Linked DNA regions of Homo sapiens: region 1 is linked to region 2. The links come from fine-mapping of genetic effects on gene expression. A gene starts in region 2. The other region holds a variant in brackets. All regions are shown on one strand. Distances are between the middles of the regions. Region 1 overlaps DPP10 (dipeptidyl peptidase like 10). Region 2 holds the start of DPP10-AS1 (DPP10 antisense RNA 1).

The links. PIP is the estimated chance that this variant, and not a neighbour inherited with it, causes the effect.
Region 1: its variant is fine-mapped to the expression of DPP10-AS1 in esophagus muscle (GTEx, PIP 0.90).

Annotation. Positions count from the first base shown.
Region 1 is chr2:114,773,727-114,781,726 of GRCh38, reverse strand. The region is part of intron 1 of DPP10 (dipeptidyl peptidase like 10); the gene reads right to left. Among named protein-coding and RNA genes, the nearest start is that of DPP10-AS3, 56 kb to the left of the region's middle. The variant G/A (reference allele first, on the strand shown) is at 4,374.
Region 2 is chr2:115,157,572-115,165,571 of GRCh38, reverse strand. It overlaps DPP10-AS1 (DPP10 antisense RNA 1), which reads left to right and starts at 4,229. Exons shown (of 3, transcript NR_036580.1): 1 at 4,229-4,468. All of the region lies in intron 1 of DPP10 (dipeptidyl peptidase like 10), which reads right to left.

The DNA of each region.
Region 1 (8,000 bases), 380 kb after region 2:
GATCATTGTCTTTCTCAAGATGCTCCCCCAATTATATACTCATCTAGATATGCCCTGCTTCCCTTTCCCACATATGTAGGCTGTTAGGGTGAAGAGGTTCTCTACCAGGGGGCTTTTCATAGCATAAGCTCTGCTAGTTTCAGCATAACTCTTGATGGAAAAACAATATGGACTTCTGTATTACTTGCTGTGATGTTGCTATCAATGAATCTTTTCAAATGCCTGTACCATGTGTCACAAATAATGGATCTATCTGTGCCCCTCTGCAAAAGAATAATAAATAAATGAAAACATAAACAAACATTAAGCCGTGAATCCCACCATCCATGGATAACCACTTGCTGATATTTTAAACAGTGTTTGGCTTCATTCTGAAATGTTCAAGTATTTGGAGATTCACAGCTAAAAGCAACTAGCCTCTATGAGCTTTTCCAACTTTTTCTTTAAGGCAAACTGACAACAGTGATGTGATCACGAGGATTTAGAAAACCAGAACATTTTGCCTCTGAACTGTATGTGTGGAGAGATTTCACAGGTTAAATGGAAGTTCCTAGGATCTATTACATCCTCTCTACAAAATGTTATTGTGTATTTATTCATTCATTTATTTATCTTATCCAACTATTTTTGCTAACTACAAGCACATCGGACTTTGTGACAATCAAGAGCTGTACAAAAAGAGAGAGAGGGAGATGTTAAACACATTTCTCATCTTCTGAAACTTGAAGCTTATATCCTAGTAGGAAAGATATGACAAGTACATGCAAATTAAATGTCTCATTCACCATTCTATTCACAGTAACTGACAAATGATATTCAATAGAATAATCTTCCCAATCAGATTGTAATGCTCTTGACTTAAAGACTGTCTCATATTCATTCTCAACATGTGCAACATTTTCATTCATGATACTAAAGATAAAAATTCATTAATTTAACTAGGTAGCCTACTAATTTAAAATATTCTACTCATGTCAATAAATCAACCAATCAACTAGATAAACATTTAAGATATCTTAAATGCAATTTAACAAAATTTCTTTCTGATAATCATAATAATGCCCTTTAAATACCAAACAACATTTTTGAGGAATGTTGTATCTACATAAATGCAGTTGTAATTTAATAGTGTGTTATTGTAATAATAGCTATTGTAAAATTTAAATGGAATTTAGTGATAACAAATAAATAAATCTTGTTTTACTATATAAACACATTGTTCACAGCTATCTTGAACCTAAATTCCTTCCAGTACCCTAAAGAATTAAAATAATGATTCAGACTTCTGAAATTAGATTGGAACTTAGGTTGGTGCTTACTTTGACTAACTGTAAGTCTTTTAGATTTTCCAAAGAATATAAAGATCACACATGAAGGATATTTCATGAGAAAAATAAGTATGATAATTTGTCACTTGTTTTCTCAAAACCAAGCTATCCTATTATTTGATGGAGTTAGATGAGTTAGATGACAAAAATACTCTATATCATCACAACAGTTTTGTCTGCATTATCATATTTGATCCTGTGAGTAAGGCAGGGAAAATCAATCATCCCTCTTTTCCTTCCCTCCTTTCCCTCCTTTCTTTTTTGAGACGCAGTCTCGCTTTGTCACCCAGGCTGGAGTGCAGTGGTGCAATCTCGGCTCACTGCAAGCTACGCCTCCCGGGTTCACACCATTCTCCTGCCTCAGCCTCCCGAGTAGCTGGGACTACAGGCGACCACCACCACACCCGGCTTATTTTTTGTATTTTTAGTAGAGATGGGGTTTCACCATGTTAGCCAGGATGGTCTCGATCTCCTGACCTCGTGATCCGCCCGCCTTGGCCTCCCAAAGTGCTGGGATGACAGGCGTGAGCCACCGTGCTCAGCCCCTTCCCTCCTTTCTTATGTTATCCTCATGAGAAAATGTTTTTGGAATTTTTGATAAACATGATCACAGAAGCATAAATATCTAAATCCCACCTGATAAAATAGCTGTACTGGCAGCATTTCTGGGTCTATCAGGTTACTTTAGCGCAAGGTTGGGCATCCTTAACACCAGAATATTATAAAGGAGGGTTATCACAGGTCAGGGCTGGTCATGAACAGACCATGCAATCAAATGGGATGAAAGGTCAAGTTATGTTGGGATATGAAAAAGTCCTCAGCGTAAACTGATATCAGCTTAGACCATATCAAAATTAGCAGCTTGTATGTAAGAAGTCAATCATTACATTTTATAAGATATGACGGGAATAGGTCCTCTGAAAAATCAGGAGTCCTCTGCTACCCTAGATATGAGATAACTTTGATCAGAGGTGGTTTAGGACCTTGGGTAGCTCTCAGGGAGCTGGCTCTTGTTCTGTTAATAATAAAAGCCATACTGAACAAACATATACCTATGTTTATATTGATGTCTATATGCAGACAGAAAATCTCAGAAGAGTCTGGTTGCCTGTTTTTTCCTCATAGTTAGCTTAATCTTTATGAAACACAAACCTCTTCGTTCAGATGAAGAGCATTTAGTGTCCACATCCACATCCAGGAGAGAAAGCCAGGTTATTCTGTGTAGTCTGGAAGTTTCACAGGGGTATACACTGATGAGAAGGCCTGACTGCAGCAGAGGAACTCTGTCTGCTGCAACACGGGATTACTCAGGCCCCAGAGGTACCAACTCCACTGGACCAAAAATAGAGCCCAGGCATGTAAAGCTTAAGACCATGAACTCTCAAGACAGCTGCTTTCTGGCATTGAATTAACTAGGGTGCTACTAATTTTTACAGTAACCATAAAGGGGAGAATAGATTATACATTATTTTTTATAACTAACATGGGATTGTGACACCATTAAGTTGCGCTTTGTCTTTCGGTCAATTAAATTCATAATTTATTGTAATATGCTAGAACCCTATGGCAGAGGCTGGCAAGACTCATCAAATCCATTTTATCTTCCATCAGAGCATATAGGTGGACTACATTTTCTGGCTTCCTTTGCAATTAGGTGCAGTCATGCGACCGATTTTAAACCAGTAGGATTTTTCATGGAAGTGGTATATACCACTTCCAGGCCTGGTTCATGTACTTTCCTTGCAAGCTTCCATGATTTCTTTACTATTTTATCTGCCGGTCAGATTAACGGAGTCAGTGGTACACTCCAAGACTCTAGACTTTAACAAAGCCATTAGATGGATGAAGCCTGGAACTCTAAATAATTGCGTGAAAAAGAGACAACCTTCCACCCAAGCAAACTTAAGTTTACTGTAACATAAATAAGAAATAAATATTTATGTTGGTAAGTAACTAAAATGTGAAGCTATTATAGAAATTAGCCACTGTGGCTAACGTTATAGGACTAATAGATATTTTTGAATATGATACATATGATCAAATCACATTTATATGAAAGTGCAGGTCTCGGCTATGAGCCATGACACTTGAGTTTTAATAAGCCAAATGTTTTGCATATATAATATACTTTAGTAACTTGCATTTTGAAATAACCTTCTTGACCCAGAGAGTAAGACTCAGTCTATCTGTAAGTGTCATCCCTTAATATTGCTTAAAGATGATAATGATTAGGGTAATGAATGATAATGATGATGCTAATACCTATAATAACATTTCATTTATAGCCCTTCTTAGTAATGTATTTATTTAATTGTCTCACTCTTTCTTGGACATGTTTAAGATGATTGCTATTATTCCCATTTTAAAGGTCTTGAAACTGAAATCCAGAATGTCAGCTAACTAATGAAAGACACGACAAATTCAAATTTAGATCTTCAGATTATTGACCCTAAAGTCCATGCTTTACCACTACCCTACAATTATTTAAGCAGAACCTGTCATAAAATTGCGGATATGAGTCTAACTTAAAGAACAGTGAACTCTTTGACTATGTAACTTCATAGAACTTACTATAAAGCATCTTGGTTCTGCGGCTCAAAGGATTTCTGTTTAATGATGTCATTACCATATAGCCAGGACATAACACTGCATTTAAGAGATGTAAAGTAGTCATTTAAACATTTACTGCTTTGGGCTTCATATCTATTACTGATAGAAGCTTTGAGATGAGGATTTAAATACTACTTTATATTTATTTCTTAAGCTCAGCCACAAAGCATTTTCACACGAGACATTCAGCAACTCTGAAAGGGCTACTTCTTCCCAGCCATTTGCATTTGGTCAAACTTCCTTCTTTCCTTGCTGTTTATGACTGTAACAAGTGGCATAATATGAAGGACTGAAATAGGGAGGTTGCCAACTTTTCAAAACTTTTTCTGGAAGAAATATAATTTAGTAGGAATAATATATCCAAAAGTAATACTCAAAAAAGGGCCCTGAAAACCCTCTTCAGAAATGTATGTGGGTAATATATTTCTAAGGATT[G/A]TGATTTGTACAGTGCAAAATCCATGGGCAGTTCAAAAAAGTTGGACCAGGAAGAAAGGAAGCCATTTCCAGCACAAGACAGTGTTTCCTAGGCTGCAGAATTATAAGGTTTGAATGTGACTTGTTGGTCTTCCTGTACTCTTTTCTTATTCTAAGAAGAGTTTCAAAAATAAATGAGAATATGGTTATAAAAAACAATAAAATATACCCATTCTCAAAGAGTACATTTCATTTACTTCTGAATAAAAGTCTTAACATATGTAAAGCCTGTATTAACTGCTTTTAGTCCAATAATTGCAACTATACACTATATAATGTATATATTATATAGTTATGTACTACATGGTTTATAAAACATTTTCATATATCTTTTTTATTTTTGAAAAAGTATGTTTGGCAGAAATTCTTATGCCTTCTTTTTTTTAATTATGAGAACACTGATCCTTAGAAAGTCTTTTTGGCTACCATTATCTTCTCTAATAATTTGATTTCCTTTTCAAAACTCACACTGCTCAGAGAGGTGTCTCCACTCATCCCCTTTTCCAATACTCATCAATTCAATACTCATCAATTCTTATAATCTGCACTAACTTTATTTAATTTAAATCACTACAACTTGAATATGTGACTTTAAAAATTACTCTAATGTAATTTATCCAACAAATTTTTTGATCTTTTTTTAATGTAGTGTTTGTCAGCTCCCACCATAGATGACTTCAAGCTGCCAAAAATTTAACAAATGGCTCAAAAAATGTTGTACATTTAACAATATTTCTTTTGAGCCTATAAAAGCCAAATTCATCACACTACTGGCAGTGTTCACTCAGATCTAGCGCTAGCTCCTAAGGAGCTTATGGCCTGATAACGGAGATTGCATTCAGTAGAGAAAAGCTAGGAGTCTATTTTCTTTGACAAGGTCTTGGAAGCTCTGGAACCTTAGGTATGAATGTAACTGTTTTTTCCTTCTACATAAGCAGCAAAGGTCATTCAAGCAGAGGAGATAGTGTGTTCAAAGGCATGGATGCATGGAATGCCATGGCATCATTCTATATCCAATGTGCAGTGGGAAGGGCTGTCAGAAAAGAGAGTTCAGCAGGCCTCAGATCATGGAGGTTTGTTTGTGTTCTAATTGTTGTTCAATTGTTCACTCAATTGGATCAACTACATGACAACTAAGATGTATCTGCAGCTAATTTTACCTGTAACACTTTGTCTCTTTATTTTTATCTAGAGCTATATCTAAAAATCAGTGTATTTTCCCATCATATCTTCAAAACTCATTTTGTTTTTCACCATCTCTGGGAAGACATTCTTGACTTCTTCCATATTAACTCCTGCTATCTGCATCCAAGCACAGTGAACCTCCTCTGCTTCTGGGTCCTTCCCATGTGCCTCCATGAATGTATTACCAACATTGTAAGTATATTTGTTTAGATGTCTCTCTCTGTCACCCAAAGTGATAGTTCCTTGAGACGTAGGAGTGTCTTTTATTGTTTGTATTGCCAGAGGCTTGAACAGTACATGATTCATTGGAGATACTCAAGATATATTTATGCATTGTGTTGAATTAATAAGACACTTCTTGACTATAATTCAAAAGAATGAACAAAGAGTGGTGACATTCTAATTGTTGGGAATGTGAATGTTTCCTGACTCACCTTTCTGAAGCTGCTGCCATATACTAAGAAGTAATGAGTACAAAGAGTTCATGCTAACATTGCTTAGAGAATGCAAACTTTCTAGGCTTCCTCAGCCTGCTAGAACTTTCCCTCCAGCTGAGATCTACCTAGTTTAAGCCCAGTTTATACAAGATTTTGAGGAAGCTCAAAGAAGAAAGGATTTTCAGGATGCCCAGAAGTGGGACAAAAATGCTGACCCTTGAGTTGCTGTGCATGGCTTTAGTGTATTTCTGCACTTGGCAGCAATGTAAGTCTACCCCCACCAGCTATACTAACCACAAACTCCCTTTTAGAATCAGTGAAATTCAGAACTAGAAAGGGCTTTTAGACACCTACATTGGAAGATATCAACTTGAGTAGTATAACGACTTGCACTCTGGAGGTAGATTCTCCTGGGATATTGTACTTACTACTAAATCTTTCTTTGGACACTTTATGACCTTTAGCTATTAGCCTGCATCAAGTTGGGTTAACAGTAGTGACTACATTATTATTGTTAGGACTAATCAAGATTTTGCAGATATAATTCTTACCTTCTAATTGCATCTCTACCCATGCTCTTGTTGTAACACTGTATCATACAGAGTCAAGGGTGGGGACCAGGACCCAGATTGGCTGAGGTCAAATTCCATCTCTGCCACTTACTGGTTGGGTTATCTTAGATAAGTCACTTGATCTATCTGGATTTCAATTTTCTCATCGCTAAAATGTGAATAATAATAACTACCACTAAGAATTGCTTAGAGAATTATATGGTATGAAGAGTTTAAACAGGGTTCGTTCCATAATTAGTAAAGAGATAAAGTTGAAAGGCTTTGACCTAATGCTATTAGGTCAAAGACGTAACTGAATTTCATGCTTCACTTACCTCTATAAGGTTCCTGCTGTGTTTTCCTTATTCTTGTGAAGCTTTAGCCAACTAATGTTGTTGAATCATTGCTGTTGTTCATTCATTACCAATCCATTAATGCTCATCCCAGTGTAACTATAGAGTATATATATATATATACATCATTATTGATAATTATGGCAAATATAGTCATCTCTGTTTTGCAGTTAACTTCTGAACAGTGATACGCTCACAACTTTGAAACTATATTAAATATTTTATGAAAGTTTCTTACATTTTCTCCTGATTTTAAGATAGTGTTAAGGAGTAAATCTGCTTTCCTTAAAATAAAATTATTTGACTGTAACAGAGTCCCTCCAAATCTCCTACCTCATGATTCTATTTTATTCTCCAATAAGCAAGCCTGACTTAAGATTACTTTTTTTTTTGTCATAGGTCCAAATATGGCATTCTGTAACAAACGTGGTAACAAAAACCAAGCCCCAAAGACTCCACTTACTGCTGTGCATAGGTTGGTTATGGAATGTAGTGCATGAAGAGCATTTGCTTGCCTAAAAATTGTTCAGACTCACATTAGAGTGTCAATTTCATCATACATGTCTCTAAATCACTATAAAGTATGAGCTTCTTGAGGACAGAAATACTATTTATTCATCCCTGCATCCTCATCTCCTGGCACAGAATACAACCCACAGTGCATGTGTTGAATGAATACATATAAATATGTGATCGTTCTTAGCCATCAGGTTACTAGTATTCACTTTCTATTTCTATTCAAATACATATATATCAAATAAATATACATATATACATACACATACCTATATATCAAATAGAATATATACTTTTATATTTGATAAAGTTTAAAAGTTATACTTCAAAAGCTATAAATATATACTTTTTGATATCTATTTGAAATATCAAAAAGTATATATTTATTTTTTTGTTCACTAGCAGATAACTATTTAAAAAAGAAGCAATACAAAATAGAGACTGTATCTATATGAATCACTCTACAATTAATTGTATATGGATTTTAATATATTTTAGATCTAGCCTTTTTGTGGTTACTTTCAAGGGACCTTAGTAAGTTCAGAT
Region 2 (8,000 bases):
CTATCTTGTTCTTTTATATTATTTAGATCAGTAGCGTGATATTAACTAAAATTAGCAGAGCTGTGATTTACTTGTATAGTTGAAGCTTTAAACAAATTATTCATTTGTTTTATATTCAAGGTAAATTTGTGCACATGTGCACACATACACATATAATTTGCAATTATTTTCATTCTTACAATAGAAATATGTTGTATCATGATTGTATAGAAGTTAAAAGTTGAGGCTTCAGACCTCCATGAGTTCCTGGCTAAGTCTCACTTCCACAATAACTTCCTTAATCCTCTGTATTCTCATCTCTAAAATAGGAATAAAAACAGGACTCACCTCAAAAAACTGCTTTGAGAATCAAATAGAAAAATACATTCAAGAAATGTTACTTTATGAACCCTAAGAATAGTACTCTGCCTGTGGCAAGCATTCAGGAAGTGATTTTTAAAAATAATAATAAATTACAATTAGCCACTAGAGTTCTTAGCTCTTTCAATGTTAATTGAGATATTGATCATGTTAAGAAATGATTGTGTCTAGTCATGTCAAGGCATTTGTTTTTAGATATTTTGTAAATGTGGAGTGTTGTGAAAGCAACAAAAATAACTGTCATAAATATTTTGTAATCAAAGAATCTTTAAAAGAAAGATTACTAAGATGATAAAAATATTTCCAATGATTCAGAATATTCATAAAATACACGGTCCCTACACGGTCCCTCCTATTCTTGTTGTCACCATTCTCTAGGGAGGGAGGGCATGTCCTCTTGTCATGGCACCCTGTGCCAGAGGACACTAACAGATCAAATAAAAGAGGAAGGTTGAGCCCTCTACAGGACTGTAACTGTAACCAAATTATATGGTTCATAACCATTTTCAGTTACAGGAAGGATTATGGTCTTCCACTGTGCTATAAGTGGAAATAGGTGTTTGATGGCCTCAGGACAAGGCATCTTTGAGGTTTCATAAAAATCTTCACCATAGAAACTAGAAGACATTCTTGGAAACATGCAATAGCTTAAATCATTCAAAATCAATGCATAGTGATTGATTTGTTGGAACATGTGCCCTATTTAACCACTAGGTAAAATTTCATAAAGGTACATTTTAATTTAAATTTATGAATCTTTTTTATGAAATATTATAGAAAACACACAACTAATCACATCTTTATGAAGCTATATTATATCTAGTATTGCACGAGAGTTGTGTGGCAATTGCAGAATTAAACCATAATGACTAATATGGCTAATAAAAGCTTAGTAGTCTTACGGAAAGTAGTTTAAGCTGTCACAAAAATCATTCACATTCTTTTTCCATCGTTTCATATGTCAAGCTTTGAACAAAAATATGCTAGATATGAGTATTTCCTGGGAGTGCTTGAAACACCCTCACTGCGAGGTGCCATGTGTATATTTCAGTTGACTTTCTTTGTAAAATCAATCTATTAGAACACATGCATAAGATTCATAAAACTGACATTTTCAAATCATGTCAATACTCAGAAAGGCACTTAAAATACTCTATTAAAACAAGAGTTCTGCAAAGTAGCCACTCCCTGAATATTTGAAGTGGCTATTAAAAAATGCACACTAACAAGAAAAATGGATTCGAGCTTGCACCTATCTCTTCATATGAATTTTAAGTACCAGATTAATCCTGACAAGGGGATTTGTTGTGTATAGACAGCGTGTCCACTATCTACACATACATTTTCAGCTCCTGTGTGCTCTGCTCTGCTCTGCTTCTGCATCCCACTTCCACCATCACTGAACTGTTTGCAGCGCCTCAAGTAACCAGCTGGTGTCACAGGTTAGTGAGCAAAGATTTCATGTGGGGACTCTCACCTGGCTAATCTTTCTTACTGGTAGCATCATTCCCAGAGCAGTAGAGAGGCTCGGCGGCTTGTTAATGAAATTTAAGGGCTGTCAGCCTGAAAGAGGATGTTCAATCCATGTTCCCGTTCTGAAATTATTTTTCTATATCTGCTAACCAATGTTTACATTCTGATGTGTGCTGGGGATTAGGAGGAAGGGGTATAAAAGGAAGGAACGTATGATGTTTTAATATTTTCATACTTATCTCAGAGTATGGATCAAACAGGATCGTTTAAGAAAACAAATGCTTTGTAAGAACTGCCAACATTCAACCCCCTCCCACTAATAAACGAGAAGGGAGCTGTAAGTCATTGAGTAATCCCCACCACCTGTGTGAAACACATGTGAGAGAAAAGAGAAGGGGAGGGAAGAGGAGAAAAGAAACCGCAAGCCAGGAGAGATGACCAAGTCTGCAATATTAATAACAGCATCGCTGGCATGGCCTCCTGTGTCTCGCCACCACTCCTGGGCGATTTGGACAGCTCCCCTTAAGAGGCTCTTCAGTGCTTAGAATACGCGAAAAGCCGAGTCGCTGCTGGAGCCTAGCCGCGTGCGCTCCCTCTATCCCACGCTAGCAATAAGCTGGGAGGGTGTCCGCCTCCAGCAGCCTTCGCAGCGCACTCCGAACAAAGATCCCCAGTCCTCCTACCCCAGCGCTTGGGTCCCGCGGGTCCACAGTTAATCCCTGACCTAAGTGCAGCTCTCTCTGCCCGGAGTTCCTAATTGATGCAAACGTGAGCGCACCTGCACCCGGCTCAGCGCAGCCTCCCTCCTCCTCCTCCTCCTCCTCGCCAGGGTGTCTCGGCGCTCCCGACCCTCCAACTTTGGAAAAAGAGCGACACCGAAGTCCCAAATCACCCCAGATCAGGGACAGAGACGAGATGGGGATCCACGACGGTACGGTTATGCTACAGATTTCTAAAGACCAAAACAAAAAGGGGTTGGCGGGTGTAGACGGACGGGAAAGAGACAGGAATAACCCTCAGCCCACGCAGGGCACCTCATCTGTGCAGACGCGACACATCCAAACCCAACACATCACCAAAGCCAGCGCCTTCCCGGCTCCACTTAATCGTTAATGCCTCGCCGCTCCCCAAGCTCCGTTCCGCTCAGCAGACTACGGATGTCTGGGACACTCTTCCCCCATCCCCACCTCACAAACACACACCCGTCTCCTCAAAAGAAACAAGAAAGCAGAGGGAAAACCCCGTCCGCCTAAAGGTCATTCGCCTGCTCGGGTCGCTTTGGCCAGCGAGCGCCCCGGCTATAGGAGGACGGGGCTCGAACCCGGTGAGCGGCCGTCAGGAGCGCAGCAGATTTCTTCAGCGTGCGTTAATGGGGAACCAAGAGGCCCCATTCCTTGGTCCCGGCCGCCTCTCCCTCCCTCGGTGGGCCGCCCGCCGGGGTTCCCCGGGGCACCTTCAGCCTTTACCTCTCTGCCCCCTTCCCCGCGGCTCTCCACCTTGCGCATCCTCTCGCCGGGCCCCGGAGCGCACGCAGAGGCTCTAACTTCCCGCAGAGTCCGTGGAGAAGCAGGAGAGCCTGGAACTGGGGCGGGGCGGGGGAGGGTGAGAAGAGGGAGGCGCGGGAGCCCAGCCTGGGAAGCGGGAGGCGGGCGGAGCGCGCACTGGAGCCACCCCTCCCGGGAGGGCCTGGCCGCGGCTGCCGACTCTCACCTGGTCCGCCGGCTGCGCCTGGCTCGCCCTGGCCCCCGGGGTGGGCTGCGGCTCCTGCTTCGCGGCCGTCATCGCCGGCGGCCCGCGCTGGCGCTCGCTTCCTCGCGGGCGCTTCAGACTCGGGGACCGTCACTTGGCAGCGTTCGCAGGTCACGGGCGCCCGTCGCTCCCGGAATCGGCGGAAGGGACGGGGTGGGGGGAGCGGAGGGGCGGGGAGGGGAAGAAGAGCGGCACCGGGCGGGCTCCCCGTCGTAGGGTCCCTCCCTCGGCCACCGCAGACCCTCTGACTCCCCGCTCTCCCCGCCCCCCGCCACCCAAAGCGCAGCGAGCCGCGGCGGCGAGGCGAGACCAAGCGGCAAGTTAGTGCAGCGGCGAGCGGCGGGGCCCCGGCCCCTGACCGAGCTGCGGCGACGCCTCGTGCCTTCTTCCCGCAGTCCGCGCCCCCCACCGCCCGCCCCCGGGGGCTCCCCGCGCGGTGCTCAGCGCGCCAGGTGGAGCAGCCGGGCGCCGCGCTCCGGCCTCTCTTCGGCAACCGCAGCCGGGGGGGGGGAGAGCCCGGAGCGGCGCGAGAGCCCCCAACCCGCGCGCCCACGGCCGCCGGCTTCCGCGGTTACCCCGCCCCCCGCAGGCTTCCGCTAAAACCCGGAGAAGCGGAGCGCGCCCGTGCGAAGCACTGGGTGGCTCCAGCTCCGCCACTGCGCGCGCTCCAGCGCCCCAGAAGGCAGGGGGCAGCCCGGGGACCGGGGTCCCGGAGCCCCGTGGGAGGCGGGCAACACCTGTCGGGACCCGAGGGCGTGTCTGAGATTGTGGCCTGAGGTGCTGCGCCTTCCGATCCGGGGCAGCGGGCGTCCTGTAGCTGCGCCTTCCGAATCCAGCCCAGATTCTCCTACCAGCTGCTTGGGTCACGTCGGTGGAACTCCTAAAGGTCGGTTAAAAACCATAAGAACTGTAATGATGATAAGACTCTGATACTCATTTCTTTTTTCTTTTTCTTTCTTCCTGGACACGTGTAGGAAAACCTTCAAATCTTAAGTCCTCCCAGCCTTTCCTTTCTTCAACACAACCCTCTCCCATTCAAAGTAGGTTTACCGAGCACCTACCACGTGCCAAACACACTGTGAGGCTCAGAGAGAGGGTCGCAGGGGAGAGAAACTAAACAACACGGCAAACCTACCAAATCCCCTGGCTGCAGGGAGCTTACGTTGTGTGGGAATTGGGAGCCCGGAGCCTGGATACAAATCAATGAGTCAATGTAGCTCTTAGGAAGTTGAATTACCGCGGATAGACAAAGTCCACAGTTCATCCAGATGCACTAGTGCACGTGGCTTTCCCTAGGGCGCCTAAAGCCTGTGGACCACAAACAGCCTCCAAGTCTCAGGCACAGGTTGTGGAAGATTGCTTACCGGAGAAATGGCAGGAGTGAGTTGAATATTTAGGTGTTCATGTATTCAGCACAAGACAGTTCCAGCAGAGAGGACAGAGAATATGGGGCAGTGGGGTGGCAGTGAGTTGGGCTTTATTGGCTAAGGACTGGCTCCCTGCTCTGAGCCACTCAGTCCATTAATTAGTCACTTCTTAACTGAAAGACTTTTGTAGAATGGTAGGAGCTGTCCTCTTGCCTTAGTAGTTTCTAAAACACGAATTATAATGTTGTCCTAAATATTAATTGTAACGATACTTCCTATAAAGTATGTATTTTAAAATAAATATATCAGTAATCACCAGCAGAAAGATAGAATTAGAGGTGAGTGGAGATCTTGTTTTTCAAAAATATGTATTCCAGTGCATATTGTGAAAGACCTATTTATTCTGTTTCAGGAGAAATAACTTTTTGCTAGGAATAACTTTGCAAGTTGCAAAAGCATAAAGCAAATATATATTTTTAATGAAACATTAGTGTAATAGCTATTGGGCAGCTTATCCAGTAATTATGACAATATAGATATTCCCTCACATGTAATTCTTTTGGAGGGAGGGCATCTGCATTATTCAGAAAATGTTCGCATTTTTATATTTTGCTCTTCTGTTGATTATTTGAGTATATTCATCCTTTCATTGTGTTTCCATTTCGGACAATCTGCTTGAGTTGAAGGAATTTACTTTATTACAGAGATATCTGTCACACAGGATAAGTACATGCTGGAGGGAGATATCCTTTTATATAAGATTACTTATTTGATTGAGTTCAACTGTTGAATTTGCATCTGTGTTCTGAATTCAGTATAAAATCCACTTCATTACAAATAAAGACAAACATTATTATATGTTTCATGTATTGTGGGGGTCTGTGTGTGTATGTGTGCGTGAATTTTTTTATTTATAAAATGCTTCTTTGATTTAAGTATTTGTCCTTGGGGATGGGTTGTTATTTTGTCAAGCTAAGAACATTTTTAGCTGTTGAGATCTGGGTTAAGGGCACTGATTAAAACTTAATCACATGTAAACGGATTTTCCCAATTTAAACACTGTTTTTATTTTTTTAATGTATTGCACTTGAATTACAGTGTAAGATGTTCTACTTCATTTTCAACTTAATTTCTTACTGAAGAAAAAATTCTAACGTCCAAACAAGAAATGTTGGAATACCTTACACCTTAGAAGGGAGTATTTGCAGTTCTGTTTTGTATGGTTTCTAATGATGTTATTTTTAAAGAAACATTCTCCTGCCTCAGCCTCCCAAGTAGCTGGGACTACAGGCGCGCGCCACCACACCAAGCTAATTTTTTGCATTTTTAGTGGAGACGGGGTTTCACCGTGTTAGCCGGCATTGTCTCGATCTCCTGACCTAGTTATCCGCCCACCCCGGCCTCCCAGAGTGCTGGGATTACAGACATGAGCCACCATGCCATGCCACTTCCACCTTTTTACCTGGTAAAATTAAAATGTTTAGACCAGGTGCCCATTAAGATATTCTCATTCTCTAAGTTTTTGTGATGATATGTTGATGTTATAAATCAAATGCCTATCTTCTGAATGAAAAATTATTTGTATATGTTTAAATTTTAGTGGGAGAGTCAATTAAGTACTTAGAAATTAAAAAAAAAAAACTCAATAGATAAGTTAATTACCTTGCAAAAGGCCCTTACCATCCACCATATTTTCCAGTGCTCTCTAGTTTTACATGCACATAGTCACAATTTTGTCTTGATAATGTTTAAATCTGAAATTTAAAATGTATTTACAAAGCATAACTTCTGAATACAAAAATCTATTTAAAGAGAGTTTTTTAAAAAAAAGATTCACAGAGTATTTTGAATACTTTTTCATGTATTATCTTTGATCAGCTAATTCATGGACAAGCATACATTTTATAACATTCATATAACAGTAAAGGAAGTTTTTCTACACTTTTCATGGGAAGAAATCAGACTCTCATAACTGAAAAGGAACTGGAGAGATCACCTAGCAAAATTCCTTCTATTTTGGGTTATAAATATCTAAACTTTACAACACATGGCCATTTTATTCAGGAAGATTTCCTAGAATTCAAACTCCATCACTTCTTTCTGAAAATGGATTACCTCAAATCCTAGTTTTGGGTTCACATGTAGACAGAACTCACAATGCTGCTTTCTCAATATATTCATTTGGGTTTCTGAAGCCATTCAAAAACTTCCTCACATACAACATTGTGAATATCTACAATGTCTTTCTTTCTCTTGCTGTTTTACCCTTTAAAAACAGGAAGTCAATGCAGTACATCTCTCTTTACCTAGAAATATTAAGGTAGATAATTGAGGACGGGTTATGAAATTTAGATAATAATTGGATTAATTGAAGATTATCGTTATAGTGTTTTGGTATCTGTGGCAAAATTAGGTTGTTCTATACATACATAGGTCATCTATGCAGTATTTAATCCTCCACCTCAAATAGCAGACAAAGGACCAAAGAACCAAAATTTACTCTAAAAACAACCAAGTAAGAAATAAGGTCTAGCTAACAGCTGATATGTCAGAAAGACAAATGTCCCTTGAGATTTTCTGAAGTAGGATACCCTTTAGAGACAAACTCTTCAGTTTCAGATAAATTAGACAAGGCAAACAGTACTCCACAAGCAGCTAGTTGCTAGAAACCCTCACTGCATTTTCCTTCTCTTTGCTCCCCTTCCTGAGGTAAATCTGCAGTGTCATGTAAAGACCACCTTGATGGGGATTTCCCTAGCATTAGCCAGTCCTCTGTTGAGTGTCTATAATGAGCACAGCATCAAGAAGACAGAGTTCACGAGCTGTGTCTTCAGAGACTTGGCCTGAAATATGCCCAATTAGCTCTTTGCAGATAAAGAAATAGCTTTAGTTCATATCTTCTGCTATCATTTGGTTTCGATTTATGAATGACCTCTACTCACCTCAATCGGGTTTTGAATTCCCCAAAATGCACATCATGTCCCTGGACAGAAAACCAGTATGCTGAGCAATCCTCATAAACAAGCTACATTTTAGAAGCTCTAACCAGTA